Regions from separate parts of the Homo sapiens genome. Here region 2 is linked to region 1. The links come from fine-mapping of genetic effects on gene expression. A gene starts in region 1. The other region holds a variant in brackets. All regions are shown on one strand. Distances are between the middles of the regions. Region 1 holds the start of SERP2 (stress associated endoplasmic reticulum protein family member 2). Region 2 has its middle 23 kb from the start of SERP2.

Region 1 (11,123 bases):
AATTATAGCAGACACATGGCTACAGCTTGGGCTCAAACATGTGGAAGCATCTCTCCTTTCTTCAGTTGTGAGTGAATTGCCATGGGAGGTCATTAGGGAAAGTACTGTAGCAGGGTGTGTTTTTTTTTCCTTCGGGATATGACGGTTTTACTGCTATTAATAACAGATGTGGCCAGGCAATTACAGACTTAAGATGGTTGATCACATCTTGCATTTTAAAGCTTAATCTGATCACCTCCAGGGTCAAGGAATTACATAGCTATCATAATGGATAAAGTCTGTCTTGTGCCACCACTTGTGGACCAAAGTTCAAGCCTTTGAGGTCTGAAATAGTTTATCTTTGTTCTGCAGCGTGGGGGGTTGAGGGGGGGTGGCGGGGCGGGGTGAGGGAGAAAGAGAAAGAGACAGAGAGAGAGGAGATTTATTTTCCGTGCATGTATAAGCTGCTCCAAAGCTCAGCCATGAGGGTGCCCTGTTACCCTGGCTCCCATTCAAGTTTAGCTAGTAAAGCTACTTTTGGGAAAAATGAGAAGTCAGGAGGCCACAATTCTGCTTTCAGGTCTGCTACAATTCCCTTTGCAATTCTGAGGCTTTTACTCATTTGTGAAATTTGGACAATCTCACGACATTTACTTGTCCTCTCCACAAAACTTAGAGCTCTCTAAAGCAGACATTCTTCTAGCAACCATTGAATTCTCAGTGTCTAAAATAGTGTCTGGTATATAGCAGACACTCAATAAACACTAAACGAATGAATAAATGACTGTCTGGGTTTCCTTCCAGTTACAACATAACATGATTCCATAAAATCATAATCTAGTGCATTGAGTTGACTCCAATGCATGTGGCAGATAACATTTGCTATCAGCTTTCTTGATTTTCTCTGCCCACTATTGAGACAACTTCATGAACATTTCCACCAGAATGTAAGTAACATGTATAAAAGGAGATGACCTGAGATTTGCCAAATTTTCCTCTTTTCTAGCCGTACTGAAAATGGTTTGGAAAAAGAAGAAAGTATTCATTTGAAGTGTCGGTTATCTGCTGGTTTTATTTACACAGGGTGTGCCTGTCAACCACTCCCATCCATAATTGAGACCAGCCACCCACAGCACCTGTCGTCAAGGCCTCTATACTCAGTTCCCCTTAGTGAGATAAGGTGAAGAGAGACCACTAGCTAACAATGTGTGAAAGCTTCAAGTGACATGACAGTCACTCCAGATCTGGAAGGGGAAATGACAAAGGAAGACATTCTGGTTTTTTGTTTGTTTTCATGTACATGAGTCAGGGTTCTTGGTTGTAAATAAGACAAACTCACTCTGGCTGATTGAAGCGGAAGAATTTATTGTAAGGATTTCAGGTACCACGGAATAAAAAGGATACTGTCACTGGTTCCACCATGATTGCTAGGTACTACCAGTCTCTAGAAACTCGACCACCAAGATGAATTTTAACGTGTCTCTGTCTTTGCACCACTTGATCAAGATTCACAGTTCCCAAAAGGAGAATCTCATTGGCCAGATCACACGCCACCCTAGCTGTGAGGGGTTGGGAGACCAAGTATGTGGCCCCCTTATGCTCCACGGTGGGAAAGAAGGTCCTAAGACTCTCACAGTGATGGAGTGCCCCAAATATAAAGAATGTTTGCATGCTGGTCAGCCACAGAAAAATGAGAGATGTCCAATGCATCACAGTTTAGTAGTGTAGCATCATTTATAAAGATGGGTAAAACTCAGTCTGTACAGCCACACATCCAGTGCCCTAAGTGGGGCAGATTTATGATTAATGGGCATAGGCTTGTTAGGATTTCTTGCTCTAAAGGCTGAAAATTGGCTGGGCATGGTGGCTCACACCTGTAATCCCTGCATTTTGGGAGGCTGAGGTGGGCAGATCACTTGAGGACAGGAATTCAAGACCACCCTGGCCAATATGGTGAAACCCCGTCTCTGCTAAAAATATAAAAAGCCAGGCGTGGTGGTGCATGCCTGTAATCCCAGCTACTCAGGAGGCTAAGGCAGGAGGATCACTTGAACCCGGGAGGCAGAGGTTGCAGTGAGCCAAGATTGCGCCACTGCACCCCTACCTGGGCGACAGAGTGAGACTCTGTCTCAAAAATAAAAATAAAGGCTGAAAATTTTACCAGCCAAAATTAAATTTTAACCAGTTAGCAGTTTCCTGGCACTTTGCCCATAACAATTTTAAAAGTTGTGGTTGAGCACTGCATGCTAGTGGTATATTACAAAACTCCATGCTGCCACCATAGATGAACCCAGGAGAAGTTCTCCTTAATCAAGTTTCCATTTTCCCCTCCTAAGTCCTCGAAAGAGCAAGACGACTCCATGCTTTGCTCCTTCGTAGTCTAGTAGTGACTCTGGAACTCCAGGAACACAGCTTATAGACTTTAGCCCCAGCTCCCCACATAAGGGTCTGGAGGCTGAGTATAAGAAGGGCCAGGATCCATGCTGGGAAACTGCTTGGTCCATGATGGTGATCCTCAAGGCAATAAACAGGACTGAGACCTGCAGAGGAGCTGGCCTGACTGCAGAGGACAAAAGCAGGGGTGTGAGCAGGTAAAGTGGAGGTCACAGCACGAGGTTTCTTCATCCAACCAAGGACATAAAAAGTTGCAGCAATTTCACTTCCAGGAATCTAATTCCAGTGTTGTGATATAGGAGAAACCAAAGTGTTGTCTCCCACTCTCACACAGCCAGCACACTTTTAACACTAGATGTGTGGGGGATGTTTCCCCTCATACCAAGCAATTCTGCAACAGACACCGGCTGGGTGTCCTTTAATTCAATTCAATTCTGGCACTATGTACCTGGAAATAGCAGGGGCTCAGGGTTTGATCCTATGAGACCGCCCCCCATTTCAGATGCCAATCCCAGGTAGTAGGTTGTCTCCTGTACCTCTGCCTGCCCAGCTATAAACTGGAGTTCCCCCAACCCACTCCTTGTTTGGACTAATCTGCTAGAGTGGATCACAGAACTCAGTGAAACACTTTACTTCTGTTTGCTCATTTATGAGGAAGGATATTACAAAGCATATAGATGAACAGTGAGATGGAAGAGATGCACAGGGCAAGAAATGTGGGAAGGGCTGTGGCGCTTCCATATCCTCTCTGAGCACGCCACCCTCTAGGAACCTGATGTTCTGCTCTCCAGAACTCAACAAACCCTATCCTTTGGGCTTTTATACAGGCTTCATTGCATATGTCTGATTGATTACATCATTGGTCACTGGTGATCAACTTAACTTTCAGCCCCTCTCCTCTCTGTGGAGGTCTGGGGGGACAGGGTGGGACTAAAAGTCCCAACCCTCTAATCCTGCCTTGATCTTTCTGGTGACCAGTCCCCATCCTGAAGCTATCTAGGGTCTCCAAGTCACCAACCATCTCATTAGCATACAAAAGGTAAGATATTTTCATCACTCTGGAGAGTCCAAGGAATTTAAGAGTTTTAGGTCAGGAAACAGGGACTACAATCAAATATATATTTCACAATATCACACGCAGATATACCTGCACAAGTACACACTGATCTATGTACAGGGATATTCACTGAAGCATTGTTGGCAACCACAAAAAAAGAAAAACTGGAAATAATCATCCATGGTTACATCAGTTCAATATATTACTGTATAATCATACTATGAGACATAACACAACTACAAGAAAGAGGTCATATATAAGTGATATGATAATGTTGATATATTAAGTTAGAAGAGCACGTGGCAGAACAGTTTGCATACTACTATTCCGTTTTTTTTTAGAAGGGAATATACAAATAGTCTTGTATATACTGGAAGGGCAACCCAGGAACCGTGGGAACTTTTTGGGGAGGGTGGCAAGGAAAGAGAGACCTTTACTTTTCATTTTCTATCCTATTTCTGTTTGACTATTTACTGTGTAGATGTAGTCTACTCATAATTAAAACAAACTAATTTAAAATGCCGGAAAAGTGAAGCATAGCAGGAAAAAGGAGTCAACAGTAAAGAAAAATTTTCCCCAAAAGGGGCTTCTCTCAGTTAAGAACACTTCTGAACTGTACTCACTGAATGTGAAGACCCAAAGAGAAAACAGTCTCTGTCTGTGTCTTTTCCTTAATGTCGCTCAGAGCCAGACCTCTACTCACCTGGTGAGGACCTGGGTCAGTCTCCTGGTATTTGGACATGATCTGAGAGGAGTGAGTCAGGTAAAGGAACCTTCTGGACCACAGACAACAGCCAGGCTCAGCAGGGATCACTGAGGTAGGAATCCCCCCACCCAAACCCCTAAAAAAGAGCCAACAGTTATTAAAAACATGGGACTAGAGTGGGGCAGACTGGGTTTATGGTCCTGTTACAACAGTGGTGATGCTAACAGTTAAAAGACCATAGAAGCTTGTTTCAAATTAATTGGCCTGTAGAGTAGGAAAAAAAAAAAATGACTCTACTAATGATCCTAGGCAATTCTGTCTTCTAGGTTACAGCAAGCAGCCCCCAGAATGGCCTTTATTGAAGCCTGAGTGACAAGAAGCCTGTAGCGGGGTGAGGGGGACCCGCTTGGAAAAAGGCCCCAAAAGAGGAGCTCTTCCTAACTCTCCAATGACATGGGAAAATTTTACTCACACAAAATTCCCTGGAAACCCAGCCACCTCCCGCTCCAAGAGAAGGCCTAGAGATGCAGTGGCCAGAGACAGCCTCAGGCCTTCTTCCCCATGCTGGGGGTGCTGCTGCTTGCCTTCACCCCGACCCGGTATCCCCACTTCCCGCTGCCCCAGATCTCCCAGGCTGAATGTCCCCTCTTCGCCTCCACTCTTCTGAGCTTCTAAGAGCTAACTCCAAGTGAGGAACTGAACCCCTTCCACCCCTACCTCCCCAGGCAATCTGTAGAGCTCTTGAGCCCTAATACCAGTGTCTGGGAGGCGCGTAAACGCTTCCATTTTTATCCTTCCACTGCAGAAAATGCCCAGTTTAGTCTGGGAGACACTCAGACCCCTCGGGACAAGGGTGGCTAGAGAGAGGTCCAAGCTGCCCTGGGTGGGTGGGGAGTCAAGGCAGGCCAAAGCTTCAGATTTAGACAGTAACCACCAAATCCGACCTGGGCTGCAGGTCCAAGGCCTCTTCCTCTTTCCTGCATGCTCCGCTCTGCCGCTGGCCCATCTTCCAATGCAACCCCTACAACTACCAAAGCAAAAAGGCCTGTCCCAACTCCATCCTCACGGCCCGATCCCCAACCCTCAGGGGATGCCGCTTCGTGTCTCCTCTTTATTTTACAACGCGGCCCTCCTTGCAGCCCTCACGAAAAGTTCTGCAGTGGGGTCCCCCAGCGTGGGGCCCTTCTCGAGACCCTTAAAGAGAAGGCTCGTTTGGTGGACCATACCCGGGCAGCGCGGGCCCGGGCCTGGACTGGTTCTACTTGTGTTCTGAGGTCCCTGACCACCGCCTTGGGTCCAGCCCTCGTCCAGGGGGCGGCGGTGCAGGGGAGACCGCGCGGCCCGGCCTGAAGCGCGGCCGCCCTCATCCCTTCCCCGGGGCTGGGGTGGGTCACCGGCCGACAAACACAGGAGGGGCCGCGTCCCCGTCCCCGACGCGCTCACAAACGCCGTGGTCGCCCGAACCTTCGGCCCCGCAGCATTCGGCTACAGGACCGCGACACTGCAGGGCCCCGGCTCTGCGCGCTGCGCTCCGGCCGCTCGGCGCGGGAGGACGTGCGGTCGCGCCTGCCTCGGTGGCCGCGCGGGGTAGGTGGCTGCGGGGACCGGAAGGATGGCGAGGAAGTCGGAAAGGGTTTCCTGAGATGAGAGATTACTTCCGTCCGGGCTGCGGCCTCTCTCTGGAGTCGGCTAGCCGGGGCTCGGGGAGCGGGGTGCGCAGGGCTCGGGGCCACGCCTTGCCACCTGCAGCGCCCGGGTGGGCCGCGGGGGCCTCGGCGGGACGCGCTCGGCCCTGTCGCAGGAGCTAACGCAGGGGGAATCCTTGCAGGTGGGAGCATTTCAGAGCGCACAAGCCATGGTGGCCAAACAGCGGATCCGGATGGCTAACGAGAAGCACAGCAAAAACATCACCCAGAGGGGGAACGTAGCCAAAACCCTGGTAAGGCGGGGTCGGCGCCGGCCAGGCAGAGCCCTGCAGCCCGGCGGGGTGGGGCGGAAGGTGGGGGCGGGGCCGGGCGGGTAGCGGCGCAGGGTCCGGCCTCCCGGCTCCCGGCCCGCCCCTTCTGCGGGGTCCTGCAGAGTGGGGGCTGAGAGCTGGGTTCAGGGCGGCGCGGTCTGCTTGGCGTCCTCGTGGGCGGAGAGGGCCCTGGTTGGTCGTGGCCCCTCTGGGAGTGGCTACCTGGGCTACCAGGGAGGCGCAGAGGAGCCCTCCTCCCCGACCCGCACCCCCTGTCCCCCTGCCCGGGAGACAGCTGGGCCTTGTCCCGGAGAAAGACGGAAAGCCTCATCCTTAGGGGCCAGTTAAGTCAACTGCATGACACAGAGCCTGGAACCTAGTATGTTCTAGAACGTTGCATGACACAGAGCCTGGAACCTAGTATGTTCTAGAACGTTTGTTGAATGAATGAATGAATCAATGGCTAAATGGAGGCCACTTGTCATCTCCTCCCGGACTCCACCTGTCTTCCCTCCCCAACAGACTTGCACCAGGATCAAGTTTTCTTTCCAGCCCCTTTGTGACGGTTTCACTGGAGGTGTGGAAAGAGCTCAAAATGGGGAGTGAGATTTGGACCCACATTCCCTCCAGCCTCTTTTTTCTCTTTTACCTCTCTTCCAGCGAGACCTCCCTCAGCCCCTAGGCTAAAGTCTAAGGGCAGCATTCCTATTCTTTCCACTTGGTGAATTCAGACTCATTCTCATGGTATAACTTTAGAGACCAGTTTATTGTCAGGCATTCGGTGTCCCTAGAACTGTAAATTCAAGCTTTGCAACTGGACTTTTAAGTAAAACCTGTGCCTTACACTCAGGAGTTTCTTTTAGCAAAGCAGATTATCATCAACAGAAAATGCGAGGCCTGTGACTTTGGACATTCAGAGGCATGAGTCGCATGGGTAGTTTGGCGAAGTTGGTCTCCAAGTATATGAGCAAAGGCGCCTGGGATCTGTTACCCCGTACAGTTAAGTGGAAATCCAGCTGAAGCCTGGAGTTTGGCTGGGAAAGCTTGCAGATTTGATGAATCAATTCCTTTTAGCCAAAGAAACTATATTGGTTTGATTAACTAAGCAAAAAGCTAGATCTGTAATCATCACACCAGAATTCTTGCAAAACCAAGCAGTATTACGGCAGAGAAACTCTAGGACCAAACTCAACTCTACTCAGAGCTTTATACACAAGTCTAAGCATAACTCAACTCTACTCAGAGCTTTATACACAAGACCTAAGTAATCCTTAAAATTCTCTCATTTAGGAATTATATCACTCAGTTGTGATTAGGCAGCAAAATGCCAAGATGCCATCAAATTGGAACCATTTTGTCACATTGATTTATGTTTTCCCTATTTTTACTGAGGAAAAAAAAATGGCTGCCCGGGTTGACATTGAGAAGCAACTTATAATTGATGTTAAGGCATGCAGGGTTTTATATCCCTAAGAGATCAATTCTTCCTTCTCAAGGGATCAGACCTGCTAACTGACACAGTGAAAAATAACTAGTCATGTGGCTCTTTTTCATGAACTAAAAAACCGGAGTTCAGTTGTCAGATCTCAGTTGACAGCTTATCTGATTACAAAAGTAAGAAGAAAACAAGAACTAATTTCTAAGGCTGTTGTATCTATTAGGTTCTGTAGACTCAGTGTCTGCCACCTCAAGTTCTTCAAGAAAACTAGAAAATGTTTGGGACCCAAAACAAAAATTATTAGCTCCAAAATAAAAGAAGAAAATGGAAAAATTGGGAAAACATTGTTTAAATACCTAGAAAAGGTACCAGTCACCTGCCATTCAACTCAATGTTCAGAGCTACATTTAAATTATATTTAATGTACAGTATGAGTTCATTTTAATATGCTCTGATATGTCATGGGGTGGCCCCCAAGAAACTCTCATAGTGCCTTGCACCTATAAGAGTTTTTAAATGGCCCAGCTAAATTTGTAATGAAAGGTTTCCAGACCAAGCCACAATCAATGTTTGCTTTGCATTGGTTGGGGGGATTTTGGTTAATGTTATTGTAAATAGATTACTATCCAATAGAAAAATGAAATTTTCTTTCAAAGAGAAACTTGATAAATCCTAAATCTCATGTTCTCAATTACAAGTCAAATATGATTATACTTTGTTAAAAGTAACTTGCAAAAGATCACTATTCAGGATGAAATTCATTAAATGGGAACAAGTATAGATTCCAACTGAAAATTCAGACTAATTGTTCAGAAATAAACTTCTTTAATTGTATGCAGATGCTTCAGTATTTTATTATTAGCTAATAGCTTACGGATAAATTAATATTATTCTCCCAGATAGCAGACTAATCCAAGAAACAAGGCCGGGCGTGGTGGCTCAGCACTTTCTGTAATCTCAGCACTTTCGGAGGCCAAGGCGGATGGATCACCTGAGGTCAGGAGTTCGAAACCAGCCTGGCCAACATGGCACAACCCCGTATCTACTAAAAATACAAAAATTAGCCAGGCATGGTGGTGGGCGCCTGTAATCCCAGCTACTCAGGAGGCTGAGGCATGAGAATGGCTTGAACCCGGGAGGCAGAGGTTGCAGTCAGCCGAGATCACGCCACCGCACTCCAGTCTGGGTGACAGAGCAAGACTCCGTCTAAAAAAAAAAAGGAAACAGAGAAATGGAATAATCATTTTGTGATTATACAGTAGTAACTTCTCCAGAATGAAGGGGGAATTTAAATTTCAGAGTTCTGAGTTACCCTACGGGTATCTTAATCACAGGGAAAGCCATTCCCTGACATTTTTGGAGCCTCAAGAAGTAGCAAACTCATGTTTGGAGTAAACCATGTCATTTGCAGAATCACTACTAGTTTTCCCCACCTTTTCCAGCCATAGAGTAAGGTTTATGTGAATTGTCCCAATGGGATTGTGCTGGGCACCCCTTCTAAAAAGTAGTCACCCAAAGCTGTCAAAAAAAAGATATATGGGTACTATGATCAGCCAAAGTCCCCAAATCATGTTGATTCCATGGAGAATGTCATCCAAAAGGTTTTTGTGTTATATGGTCCAAGCTCTACATGCTGATCATCTGTTTTTTCTGCATATGAAAAATAAAGGACTCTATTTGGTATCTGTCCTGGGCAAGTAATTCATTACAGGCTTCTGAATTCACTTATTAGCTTTGCTGGAAATAGAGATAAAATGAATTTTTTTATATAGCATCAGTGGCACAACAGCAACAGAACTGGTTTCTGGGCAACTGTGACAAGTTCCTGGGAAGGTGGTGGAAGAGGGTGGGAAGGGCGAATGTCACACTTTGTTCAGGTAGCTTTATGAATGTTGTTTACCGGATCTGAACTTGGCCTGGCCTTAAGGGCCAAAAAATGGCACAGTTATCTTATGCAATTATTTAAGACTGATCTTGTCCTCGTCTGATTAAGAGCAGCCACCGATTCCTTTGCAGTGTGACTTGCCGGCATGTAAGTGGTGGTAGATACAGGCTTAGTCAAGGACAGAGAAGTGAATGTCTTAATCCTTAGTCAAAGTCTACCTGCCGTTGACACTTTAATCCATATTTCTCATGTAGGAGAGATACAGGGATAATCCTACACCAATTAGGAATTATTACTAAAAAGACAATATCCTTCCTAGAACCTGTGTTTACTCTGCCTAACCTAAGAAATCTTATTTAATGAAACTTGTATGTTTATTTGTTCTTTGATGAACGTTTATTATCTCCTATGTTTAAGTTCTGTGGCAGGCATTTCTATATATTACTACATGAACAAGACATAGTCCCTGCCCTTGTGGGGTCTGTAGTCTCATAGAGAGACAGATATTAAACACATTAATTATCACAAGAATAAATATAGACCTACAAACTGTGACACATGCTATCAAGAAAAAGTATGTGGCCATACAAGTGACGAGTGGACCCAAGTGAGGTAAAAGAGAAGGGCTCTTTGGTAAGCTGAAAACTAAAGAACTGTTGCCTTATCTATGATAAAATAAATTCCTTTTTTAGATGAGAAGCCAGTTTACATTTACATTAGCCTAGAACTTAATTTTACATATAAATACAACACATCATAGATTTTACAGTTTTAATATATGATAAATTTTCTAGGAAAGCAACTACAGTGAAAATCAAAGGAAGATTATCCTTTTTTAAAGAAGTTTTTGTTAGAAACATTACTAAAACTTGTTCAACATTTCAAAAACTTACATCCTTGATGATAGCACCACTCGTTTTTTTTGAAACACTATTACATACCTTCAGTCTGAATGTCAAGCTGTGGTATTTGTATGGATATGAACATACCTTTTAGCCCATATTTTACAATGTTGAATACAATGTTTAAATGTCAACAACATTTAATTGAAATCTGGAATTGGGTTTTATGAGATCAACCACAAATCAATACTTGTGAACATTCCACTCTACCAACACGTTTTTCTTTGTGTGTTTTGCATGTGAATTCTTTAACGTGTGTTGAATGCAGCCTATTTTTCAAGCTAATCAGAAAATAATTAGTGAGTTCTTTGTTGTTGTTTTTTTTTTCACTCTCCCATTCTATTTGAGAAATTCACTTCTTTTCTGATGCATCTCTCAGAAAATATTTGTTGTTCTGACTGATTTGGGTTTAAGGACCAAGCCCTACCTGCACATAGACCTGGAGGTGTTGTGGAGGGAAGATCTTATTATGTCTGTGCTTTTGGTTTGAAAAAGCAGGAGGTCTGTAGGGCTTCATTCATGCAGTTTTGACAGTCCCCTTCTGCTTCCCAGAGAATTCAGAGACTTCTCCCAAGTGCAAGCTTTATTAAGGCTTAGGAGCTTTATTACAAAATGCTGCTTCACTCATAACCATTCACAATTGCTGTGGTGCTTCTGTTGTTGCAAGGATTTCCACTGTACTGACTTCCTAATTTGGGGTTATGTAAAAGGTTTTCAGAAAATGTCTGTGCTCTCTGATCCTGCTTGGAATTCACAGATGCAAAAACTAAATATTGAATCTGTTAATGGAAAATACTCAGGCTTT
Region 2 (11,123 bases), 23 kb before region 1:
GAGAGCTCCAGTGTCTCCATATTCTCTCCAACACTTGGTATTGACCATCTTTTTGATTATAGACATTCTAGTGGATATGTACTGGTATCTCACTGTGGCTTTGTATGCATTTCCCTAATGATTAATGACAAGCATCTATTCATGTGTTTTTGTTTTTCCATTCATGTATCTTCTTTGGTAAATATGTTTAAATTGTTTACACATTTTGCTTATTATTGACTTGTCATATTATTGAGTCATAAGCATTCTTTATGTATTTTAGATACAAGTCCGTTATCAAAGATAAATGATTTGCAAATCTTTTCTCCCAGTCTGTGGCTTGTCTTTCCATTCTCCTAACAATGTCATTAAAAGAGCAGAAGTTCATAATTTTGATAAAGGCTAACATCTATTTTTTCTTTTATGCAACTCACATCTTAGAAACTTTGGCCCAACCTAAGCTCACAAAGATTTTTCTACTGATTTTGTTGAGTAGATTCATAGCTTTTGTTCTTACATGCAGATCTATGGTATATTTTGAGTTATATTTTACATATGGTGTGAGGTAAAAATCTAAACACTTTATTATTGTTGCTGTTGTTTGTTTGTGTATACAGACATCCAATTGTTCCTGCACCATTTTTGAAAAGTCTCTTCTTTCCCCCATTGTTAAAAAGGCTACCCTTTTGTTCTTTGCACCCTTTTCAAAATTCGATTAACCACAAATGTGAGAATTTATTTCCGGACTCTAGTCTTTACCATTGACCTATATGTCTATCCTTTTGTATCTAATTATTGTGGCTTTAAAACAACTTTTGAAATCAGATAGTGTAAGTCCTCCAACTTTGTTCTTCTTTTTCCAAAATTATTTTGGCAATTTTAGGTCCTTTGCATTTCCATACAAGTTTTAGAAAGAACTAGTCCTCCTTCTTCTTGTTTGAGCACTATAGTTTTATCTTATGGAAACAATTTTGTATTTCTTTCATTTTTGCTTTTCTGAGAGGTCACAATTTAATCTAATTTGAAGAAAGTTTGTCAATAAAGTATATCAGGTTGTGCCTGGGGCATAATAGGTACTAAAGAAATATTAGCTCTCCCCTCCTTCCACAACACAGCCTACATTTTTACTAGAAGTTGGAAGTCAGAACAACATAGGTTTAAATTCTTCCTCTGTCACTTACCAAGTGGGTGTTCTCATGCAAATTATGTAACCTCACTGAGCTTCATTTCTACATCTGTAAAATGGAGATAATAATATTGACTCCATGGGGTTTTATAACTAGTAGGTGTAATATAAATGTGTCAGGTACATAAAAAGGCCTAATAAACATTTTATGAATGAATGAATAAATAAATAGAGTTAGCAACTATTCAAGCTATATGGCAGAATGAACCAATGACACTCCATGGCTTGATGATTAAACAAATATTTGGGAAAGAATAGCCCATTTTCTAGTTTCCTATAGACATTCCTGGTAAGAAACTAGCCTCCCAGACTCTACCTACTTCTGGTGATGGGTAGAAAGAAAATTCAACATTCCTCTCACAGGAGTCTTTGTGAGGATTTCCAGAATTCAGGGACCCACCTTTCCGTTTTTTTGTGTGCTAAGTAATACACACAAAGTGCATTATTTCTATCTATCACCAGAAGTAGGTACAGTAGGCCAGGCATGGTGGCTCACCCCTGTAATCCCAGCACTTTGGGAGGCCAAGGTTGGAAGATCACTTGAGGTCAGGAGTTTGAGAGCAGCCTGGCCAACATGGCAAAGCTCCGTCTCTACTAAAAATACAAAAATTAGCTGGGCGTGGTGGCAGGCACCTCTAATCCCAGCTACTTGGGGGACGGAGGCACCAGAATCACCTGAACCTGGGAGGTAGAGGTTGCAGTGAGCTGAGATCGTGCCACTGCACTCCAGCCTGGGTGACAGAGTCAGACTATATCTAAAAAAAAAAAAAAGGAGGTAGAGCCTGGAAGGTGAGTTTCTTACCAGGAATGTAGGAATGTCTGTAGGAAATTAGGAAATGGGCTCTTCTCTTCCAGCTATTTCTTTAATCATCAAGCCATGATTAGTATTGTATTTGTTTTTGTTTTTTTCAGAAAGGGTGGTCTCCTTATGTCACCCAGGCTAGCCTCAAACTCCTGGGCTCAAGTGATGGTCTCACCCCAGCCTCCTGAGTAGCTGGGACTATTAGTGCTTTCTCTAGGTCTGGGCAAAAGAGAGTGTGCTTGTTGCTCCTAAGTTTGCCAGATTTAGCAAATAAACCACAGTTAATAATTAAGAAAAATTAATTCTTAATTTCAGATAATGAACAATATTTTAGTATAAGTATGTCCCATGCATTATTTGGGATATACTTATATTTTAAAAGTTTCATCATTTATCTGAAATTCACATTTAACTGCATATCCTGTACTTTATTTGTTCCATGCTTTAGAGGGCCTTACATAATATAAATGCACTTAAGACAAGAAAAAAATAAATGTAGTAAAAAAAAAAAATACAGGGGACTCTGGTATTTGTCATGCACATCTGGTGTTCATCAGTGGCACAGCATAACTTGTAACCCTAAACATTCTCTTTTATAACTAAAACATTCCCATGGCTAACACTGTTCAGGCTCCACAGAATCACCTGTCCACCCCTCTTGCACTTTTGTCCTTGAACTAAAAGAGAATTTCATCCAAATGCCATGACGGCTTATGGGTTGGGCCACTGCCAAGGTCCGAGGCAGATATTGCTTCAAAGTATTAGGAATTTTTGAGTGATCTTCCTTTCAGATAACATGGATGACATAGACTCTTACAAAGTTAAATATAGGTTCACTGTAGTGCTGAGTGACCTATTTGTGCTCAAGTGCGTGGTTCTGGAGGTAGAGTCAGTACCCATGGATCCCATATTCATGTATTCAACTGACCATGCATAGAAAGTAGGGAAAAAAAATAAAAATAACATTACAACAGTACAAAATAATACCAATAGAAAAATAATACAGTATAACAACTGTTTACATAGCATTTATATTGTATTAGGTATTATAAATAATCTAGAGATGATTTAAAGTATACGGGAGGATGTACCTAGGTTAGATGCAAATACTATATCATTTTATATCAGGAACTTGAGCATCCACTAATTTTGATATCTGTCATAGTACTGGGCCCAATCCCCTGCAATTACTGAGGAATGAATGTACTTGTAAATCAGTGGAGCATTTGTGACATGATGACAGGAAAACATTTTGCAATATTAAACAAATTTGTATATTTATAAATATATCTATGACTGCATAAAACATGATAGCAATTCTTTAGTTGGCAACTAGATAGATGTTTAATGCTAGAAATGCAGATAGATTTATTTTTATGAAATATTTAATAGGATTTAAATATTTGCAAAACTAAATCATTTTAAATCATCAGCTGTATTTAGATAATTTTGATCTAAAAGTTTGGTATTCATTAACTATTGTTGGTAACTTGCCTTTTAACTTTAAAAAGTAATTTCAACTATTTTAGGAGAAAAATAAGTGGCTTAAAATGTATATAAAATAATTCAAATTTTTCACATTTACATTAATTCACCTTTTAAATATAGTTTAAATAAAAATATATTTGTATTTTTAATCTTTTATACCACTATTATGAAGTGAGCATAAATGATGTGAAAATCTTGATTAGAACAAAATAGCGACCAAGCTAAAATAGGTGATAAAAATAAAATGTATGTAGTGATTATATAAGAATCATTATTTAAGCCTCTATTTATTATTTATGTAAACATTGCCAGCTCATCAAAAGATGACCTAGACACGTACAATGATAATTAAATTCAGTAGTCTGTAATATTTTGCCAATTACTAGTCAAGTAAAAACAACAGCTTAACACGTATTTTTAAATTTTGTTGCTATTTTGCACGCTAGGCAGACAGTACATTTTATTCACCAGTTTAAGTTTTCCATTAATTTCCATTAATTTTCCATTAATAAGTTTTCCATGCTTAGACCAGAGTGCTATGCTTCTTCGTTGGAACTCTTGCTCTGGAACAGTCTAGATTGCCCAGGTGAGGAAGGGAGCCGGCCCAATACTTTTATCTTCCCTAAAGGGAGAAAAAAAAAAGACATACCAGCGGGCTCCTGCACTTTGTCGTCGAGGAAGTCTAACTCTTGCTCCCTTATAAGACCAAAGACTCCTCTAGACTCTGCTGAAGAGGCAAGGTCAAGGTGGCGAGTGTGGGATTGGAAGGAAACACAGAAGGGCAGGGAGAGAGCCTGCTGAGTCCTGGGATGCTCAGAGAGGCAGCGCTTTCTTCACAGGGGCCTGGAATCTCTCCTAGGAATAGAGTTAGAGGGACATGTGTCCGGAGCACGCTGCAAATGAGGCTGATGAGGCCCTGCACGGCAGAAATCCTGGCTGAGGATGAGCCCAAGGCTGGGTGAGGAAATGTGATTGGAAGAGCAAGTGGAAGGCTGTGAGAAATCACCTACACTAGGTCTAGGATGGCATAAAAAAGCACTTTGCAGTGAAAAAGGTCCAAATATCCCTTCCTTGGGTGGCGGCCCTTCACCTCCAGCAGCAGGCCCAAGTGCCTCACCCCACAGCCCTGCCCTAGACGCCAGCCTCCCAGCTTCTCTGCCTGGGGCCCACTGAACCCTGCAACTACATTCGGTAGTGGGCAGGGGGTGCTGCCAGGGTTTCCCCCATGCTGTTTCACAAGCACATGCTCTTCCCTCTGCCCACACCCACTCCTTGACACCCCCTTTCTGTTTCTGGTGGACCCCCATGCACCTTCAAGACCTAGCACAGTGTCACCTCTTACCGACTGCCAACCCAGAGCAGGATGATGGCCTTCCCTGGGCTCCCCTGGGGTCACACAGAACGGATTCTACCCCAGTGTTCGGTCATCCTTTAATATGGAACACATCACACATTGAAGTTTCTGTCTCCAGGAAACTGCGAGTGTTTGAGGCTCAAGGACCCTTTCATCCCCTGTTCCCAGTATCTGTCGTATGTTCCTGGCATGTAATCGACAATAAATGTCTGTTGCCTGAATTGATCATAGTCTTCCTTGATCCTCATTATACAAAGTAGAAATTGGCATATTATAATATCATCTCATTTGTGTAGGTGAAAACGAAGAAGTTAAGTTCACTGACCAAGGATCTCAGTGCTGTCTTCTGGCTTCTAAGGCCACAGTACAGGACTTTCTACTAAATTGTGGGTATTAAATTAAATGGTGCTTTTTTTTTTTTAATTTAAGGAGGTTCTGTTAGCTGTTAATTCTGTTTGAAGAACAAAGGGAACAAGTGGTTCTCACCTTGAAGCTATGGAGCAATAGACATACACTTTGAAGCATTCCTTCACCAGTGAGAATTGGTTTTGAGCCTTCCTTTTGCCTAAGGTCGAGTTGGTATCATTAGTTGGGAAATAATTACACAGTGCGGAACATTCACCCCACGAGAGTCTTTGTTTTGTTTTTTTAATCAACCCTTTACAGGAAGTTGGTTTTCACCCAGGTAACTGCTGCAAAATATTTATCC[A/G]GGTAAGAGAAACATTCCTCAGCCAATCAGAGACATTTCTTCTGTGTGACTTCACCCACCTCATTACCATTTACTACGCAGGCCTTGTAATTACCTTCAGAAGGGAACACATCCTGTTTCTGCTTGCTCAAACTCTCTGACTGACATTTTCTCTGACTTTCCAGAACTGTGCTGAGAAGTCTCCGTCAGACAGGTAATGAGGAGGCCTGGCTCTTTCGGTCAAAATGTGCCTCAAAACATGTGGGGGCACAGGGAAATTTAAAGCCATCCCTGAAGAGTCAGACCTACTCCTCAGTTGGGAATGACCCTCAGTCCTTAGGGGAATAAACACAGGGATGGGCAAGGAGACGACTACCCGGGGAGAGGCTCCAACCAGACATGGTAAATAATGCCCTGAGGCTCACACATGTGCACCCTTCTCTCCCCAGGAGCAGACCTGAAAATCAGTAACACTGACGCAACATTTACATGGAGCCTCAGCTGGGATGGCCATTCAAATCTCTGATAAGCTGATTTTCTATCCATTGGTACAATGTAATGAGTGAAAAATCGGTTAGGAGTTCTAAAGGGCCAGCCTCAAATACCAGCTCTGCGTCTTTGTAGCAGTGACCTTGGGCAAGTTACTCAACTCGCCAAACATGTTTCACCGTCTGTAAAATGGGAATGACAGCATTTGTCTCACAGCTAGTGTGAAGAAGATTCAATAACACAGGGTATAAAATCTGCAGAGCACAACTGTCTAGCACTGGAGCTGGCTGCCACCAAATATTAGCATTCTTTCCTCTTTTGCCCTCTGTCCCTGGAGGAGGACATTGTAAGGACCTACCTGCTCAGGGAATGCTATTAATAGTTAATCATCATGGAGGAACCGGCAGTCACAAAAAGCAGGAGCTGCAAATTCAGCTTCCTATGAGGGCCAGGAAGGGGGCCCAGTGTGTGTGCAGGGGGCCATGACAAGTAGGAGAGAACATAACCTTTAAAGAGGCTTCTCAGGATTATTTTAAATACATAGACATCTGGACTGATGTTAGCTGAGCTTCGATTTTTTAAGAGAAGCAAAACTTCAAGATATTTACTTGCGAGTTCCCAGTTTTTAAAAGTTGAATCAAATTAAAATGAAAATGAATATTTTGTAAGCCAAATAAAACACTTTCCCACAGGCTGCCTGTTTGCAATCTCTATACAAGGTAACAATGCAAATGGTACAATACATTACATAGGGGACTGAACTTGAAAACCAGTGCAAATCTTGTTGTACTTGCATCATTTACTGTGATCTGCAATACCATACACAAATGAGATATGTGTTACACAGATAGCTGACATCTAATGAGCTCTTCCTGTGTGTCTGCATTACCTTATTTAATCCTAGCAATTCTATAGGGTAGCTGTTATTATGCTCACCATTTTACAGATGTGGTTTAGAGATAACTCTCCCAAGATCATCTATTTGTTAAGAGGTGGAGCTGAGATCAGCTATCTTGTGTACTCCAAATCCCAGGTTCCTCAACACCACCCAATGCCTAATGCTTACGTGACCTTGAAGAGTAAGGGAGCGAGGCCCAGGGAGAATCTCGGTCAACAAGTTATTACCACCATGTCTCCTTGGCATAAATTTTTAAAGTGAGATGTTGCTGCTATCTTGGAGCAGAACATTTTCTGCCAAGGGTTGTTGCCTGGAGGTGTTGGCTATACTGCATGCTTACCGAGAAGACTGGCTTTAAATATGTCCAACCAATAAACAGAGAGAAGCCTACACTTAAGAAAATTGGAGTCAATATTTGTTACAGCCCTGAAGTCCTGCAGACTAACAGGATGTGGGCACAGAGCAGTCATTGGTCATGGAGCATGACACAGTTCCCACACACACTGCCAGCACCCTGGCCCACCCACCACCCCTGTCTGCTTCAGACACTTCAAGCGAGGATTACAGAGTGGATTGTAGATGCAGCTCCTAGGAGGCTGAGACCTGTGGTGTGTGGGCACAGTCCACATTCCCACAAGCTTTAACACATGTCAAAAATAAAATATCACCAGTCAATGAAAACAACAGAGCTACCATTTCCCACCCAACCAATTGGCAAAATTTGAAAATACCAGTTCTTCATATCGTCAAACATGTGGGGGAAATGAGAATTCTTGCACATGGCTGATGGTATAAATTAGTTCAGAAAACATTTGGTATATTGAAAATGCATGTGGCCTATCACCCAGCTATACCATTTCCAGCTATATATTTCTGGAGGAAACGTCCCATATGTGCACAAGGAGATGTGTGTAAGAAGTTTCACTGTAACAGTCTATGTGATGTCCAAAGATAGAGGGATTAATAGATTTTGTGGCCCATTCACACTGGGGAACACTGTGCAGAAGTTGAAATGAATGAATTAGATTATCATAAATCCACATGGTTACATCCTGGCAACATAATGTTAAGTGAAAAAAAGAAAGTCACAGGATGATAAATATATCATGTCACCATCTCTGTGGGTGTTTTTAAAATACACTATTATGATATGTTATATGAGGAAAGAAAAAATGGCATAAATTGAAAGATGCACAATACATTTGTGATAGCAGTGACCCCTGGGGAAGGAAGAAGTGGAATGGGACTGGGAAGGAGAACAAAAGGGACTTGGACTTTCTCTGAAGCAAATACAATGAAACATGCACATCTGCTCCTTCTGGCTAGTGGGCACGGGGCATTTGTTACATTCTCTATTGTTTCTATACTTACATACTTGTTGTCCAAAATAAAAAGGAGAATGGTATCCTGAAAAAGCACTGATCTGGAAAGCAGTTTGCTCACCACCTTGGCTGCGCCATCTTAGCTCCTCGTAACTCTGGTGCAGGCAGCTTCCTTCCCAATCAGGGTGTACATCGCCTGTCTTCTGGTAAGGACCTGAGCAAGTATTGGGTCCAGCCCAATTCTGGGGTCAGTTATTCTGTGAAAGTCAAATGTAACTTGAGGTTTTGAAAGGAGGGAAGTAGGCTGGGCGCGGTGGCTCACGCCTGTAATCCCAGCACTTTGATCACGAGGTCAGGAGATCGAGACCATCCTGGCAAACACAGTGAAACCCGGTCTCTACTAAAAATACAAAAAAATTAGCCGGACATGGTGGCGGACACCTGTAGTCCCAGCTACTCGGGAGGCTGAGGCAGGAGAATGGCATGAACCCAGGAGGCAGAACTTACAGTGAGCCGAGATTGCGTCACTGCACTCCAGCCTGGGCGACAGAGCGATACTCTGTCTCAAAAAAAAAGGGAGGAAAGTCTAGCTAGCATGTAGAACATTGCCAGCTGTATTTTAAGAAAGTTTTCTAAGTTCTCTAATCTTAAAATACAGTCAGAGAAAGAGTAAAACTTCCTGATAAGTCAATATACAATAAATCCCAACATGGTGTGATAGAGTTAGGAATCAGACAGACCTGGACTTAAATTCCAGGATCATTATTTCCTTGTTTTGAATCATTTGGCAGAGAAACATATTTGCATCTCAGTCTCCTTCACCATAAAATACGGAAAGGAATCTCTTCCTCATGGCTCTGTTGTGGGAACTTCACAAATGAATAAGGTCTGTCCTTATTCATTCCTCAGGCAAAATAGACACCTATAATCCTGACCATATTTCATTACTTCTAAGTCACACAGTTTCTTCCATTTAAGAATCTCTGAAATCAGGGTCTACTTATAATCTATAGTATCTTAAAATTATAATTGGTGGAATTTTTTCTTATTTCTTACCACGAACAACACAAAAATATGTCTTATAATTAGTGAGGTTTCAATTCTGCTAAATATAGTAGTTCTGACTTTCCTCTTTCATATAGTAGGTATGTGTAAATCTAGATTAATCAGTAATGTTATTAGGCTGTTATCTAATCTGTATCGCCAACCCTGAGAAAAGCGCTCATAAGAACTTACCTCATTTTAATCAGTCATACCAGCCTTCCTAGAGAAAAAAAAATAAACGGGGTTCCCTCCACAGTGGAAGCTTTGGCCCTAGACAGGATGTATCCTTAAAATCAATCATCATAACTTCAACATGTTTTATGGTTCTCCTGAAAGACTGAAGGTAGGCAAGATAGGCATATCTGAAGAAAGCATTAAGTACACAATAAAGCTGTAAACAAGCCCCAAGCTCATCTTCAGATCTAGTCTGTTAATAAGCAACAGAAGTATTAGCTAAGCATTTTTGGGAAATGAGGAACAATTTGGATAACTTTTGAAACATAAAAAATGTAACAGGAAAATAAAAGTTCCAGAAAATGTATATAATAAGAACACATTATGCTTTATATTTTTCAAAGATTTTTTCATCTGTTTTATTTGATAGATTATCACAAAAATTTCATGAATTAAAAGAATAAATATTATTCTCTTTTTACACATCAGACAAATTAGGCATGGAAGTAAGTGGTTTATTAAGATCACATAGCTAGTAGAAATAGGAGTAGAACCCAGATGTTCAAATTCTCATTCTTTTTTTGTTTGTTTGTTTTGTTTTGTTTTGTTTTGCTCTAACAGCAACCAAGGAAAAAAAACACAAAGATTTTATCTGTGTCCTCTTATGGGCTTGCATGCCAAATATTTTATTTATCTTGCTTTTCTGATCACGCTTTCAACCTATCTCATAAGCAACAGCCCTGAATTTCTCTTTTTCTTTCCTTCCAATGTATAGACCCATAAAATCATTCCTTTAAAAAAATCTGACAATCTGCTGTGACAGTAAAAGCCAATGTATTCACTTTTGTCATATCCCAGCCTGGCAATTTGCCTGTATCTTCTGGCATATTCTAATGAAATTACTGCTCAACTTACAGTGTACTTCCTTACAGCCCTGAGTGAATTCCCCTGCCCCATTAATCTGTATTTTCATCTATCCAAGATGTCAACTTGATATCTTATTTTCCATTTTGCCTAACTCGCTAGTAACACAATCTGTGAAACAACACATCCAATGGAAATTGCTCTGAGAAAATGTGATCATAAACGTGTCAAGTTAAGCATGTGCTAGGGTTTTTTTTTTTAATACAGTTCAGATAGTATTAGGATATATGTAATCAAAAACACAAATGTGTTTTTATTTTCAAACCAAGAGAGATTCCCAGAACTCTTTAAAGTAGTGGTTTATATCTTTAGCAAACTAGTTGTGGCCCATTGCTAGTCATTTATCCATTATTTTCTTATGCAGAAATGACATGAGAGGATTAATTTGTATCCTGTGGAACCTCCAGCCAAAACAGTTGGTCAATAATAATTGCTACTTTCACCAAGTGTTATGCATTACTTGAGGAGATTAAGTATTATTAAACTGGTGTTACAAGTGATGAAGTTGAGATTTAGAGAAGTCAAGTAATTGTCTTAAGTCACCTAGCTAATAAGTAGAAAGTCAGGATTTGAACTCAAAACCTACACCCTTAACCACTCTGATATGAGTTTAATTTGATCTGAACTTCTATCTTTAAAACAGGGATTGAAGGCCGGGTGCCGTGGCTCACTCTTGTAATCCCAGCACTTTGGGAGGCCAAGGCAGGTGGATCACGAGGTCAGGAGATGGAGACCATCCTGGCTAGCACAGTGAAACCCCGTCTCTACTAAAAAC

Evidence for each region.
Region 2: its variant is fine-mapped to the expression of SERP2 in whole blood (TOPMed, PIP 0.97).

Annotation. Positions count from the first base shown.
Region 1 is chr13:44,368,035-44,379,157 of GRCh38, forward strand. SERP2 (stress associated endoplasmic reticulum protein family member 2) reads left to right here and starts at 5,790. Exons shown (of 3, transcript NM_001010897.3): 1 at 5,790-6,075. The coding sequence starts at 5,992. It overlaps LOC105370297 (a long non-coding RNA gene), which reads right to left and starts at 5,532. Exons shown (of 2, transcript XR_001749858.3): 1 at 5,363-5,532; 2 at 1,325-5,163.
Region 2 is chr13:44,345,504-44,356,626 of GRCh38, forward strand. No RefSeq gene overlaps it. Among named protein-coding and RNA genes, the nearest start is that of SERP2, 23 kb to the right of the region's middle. The variant A/G (reference allele first, on the strand shown) is at 5,519.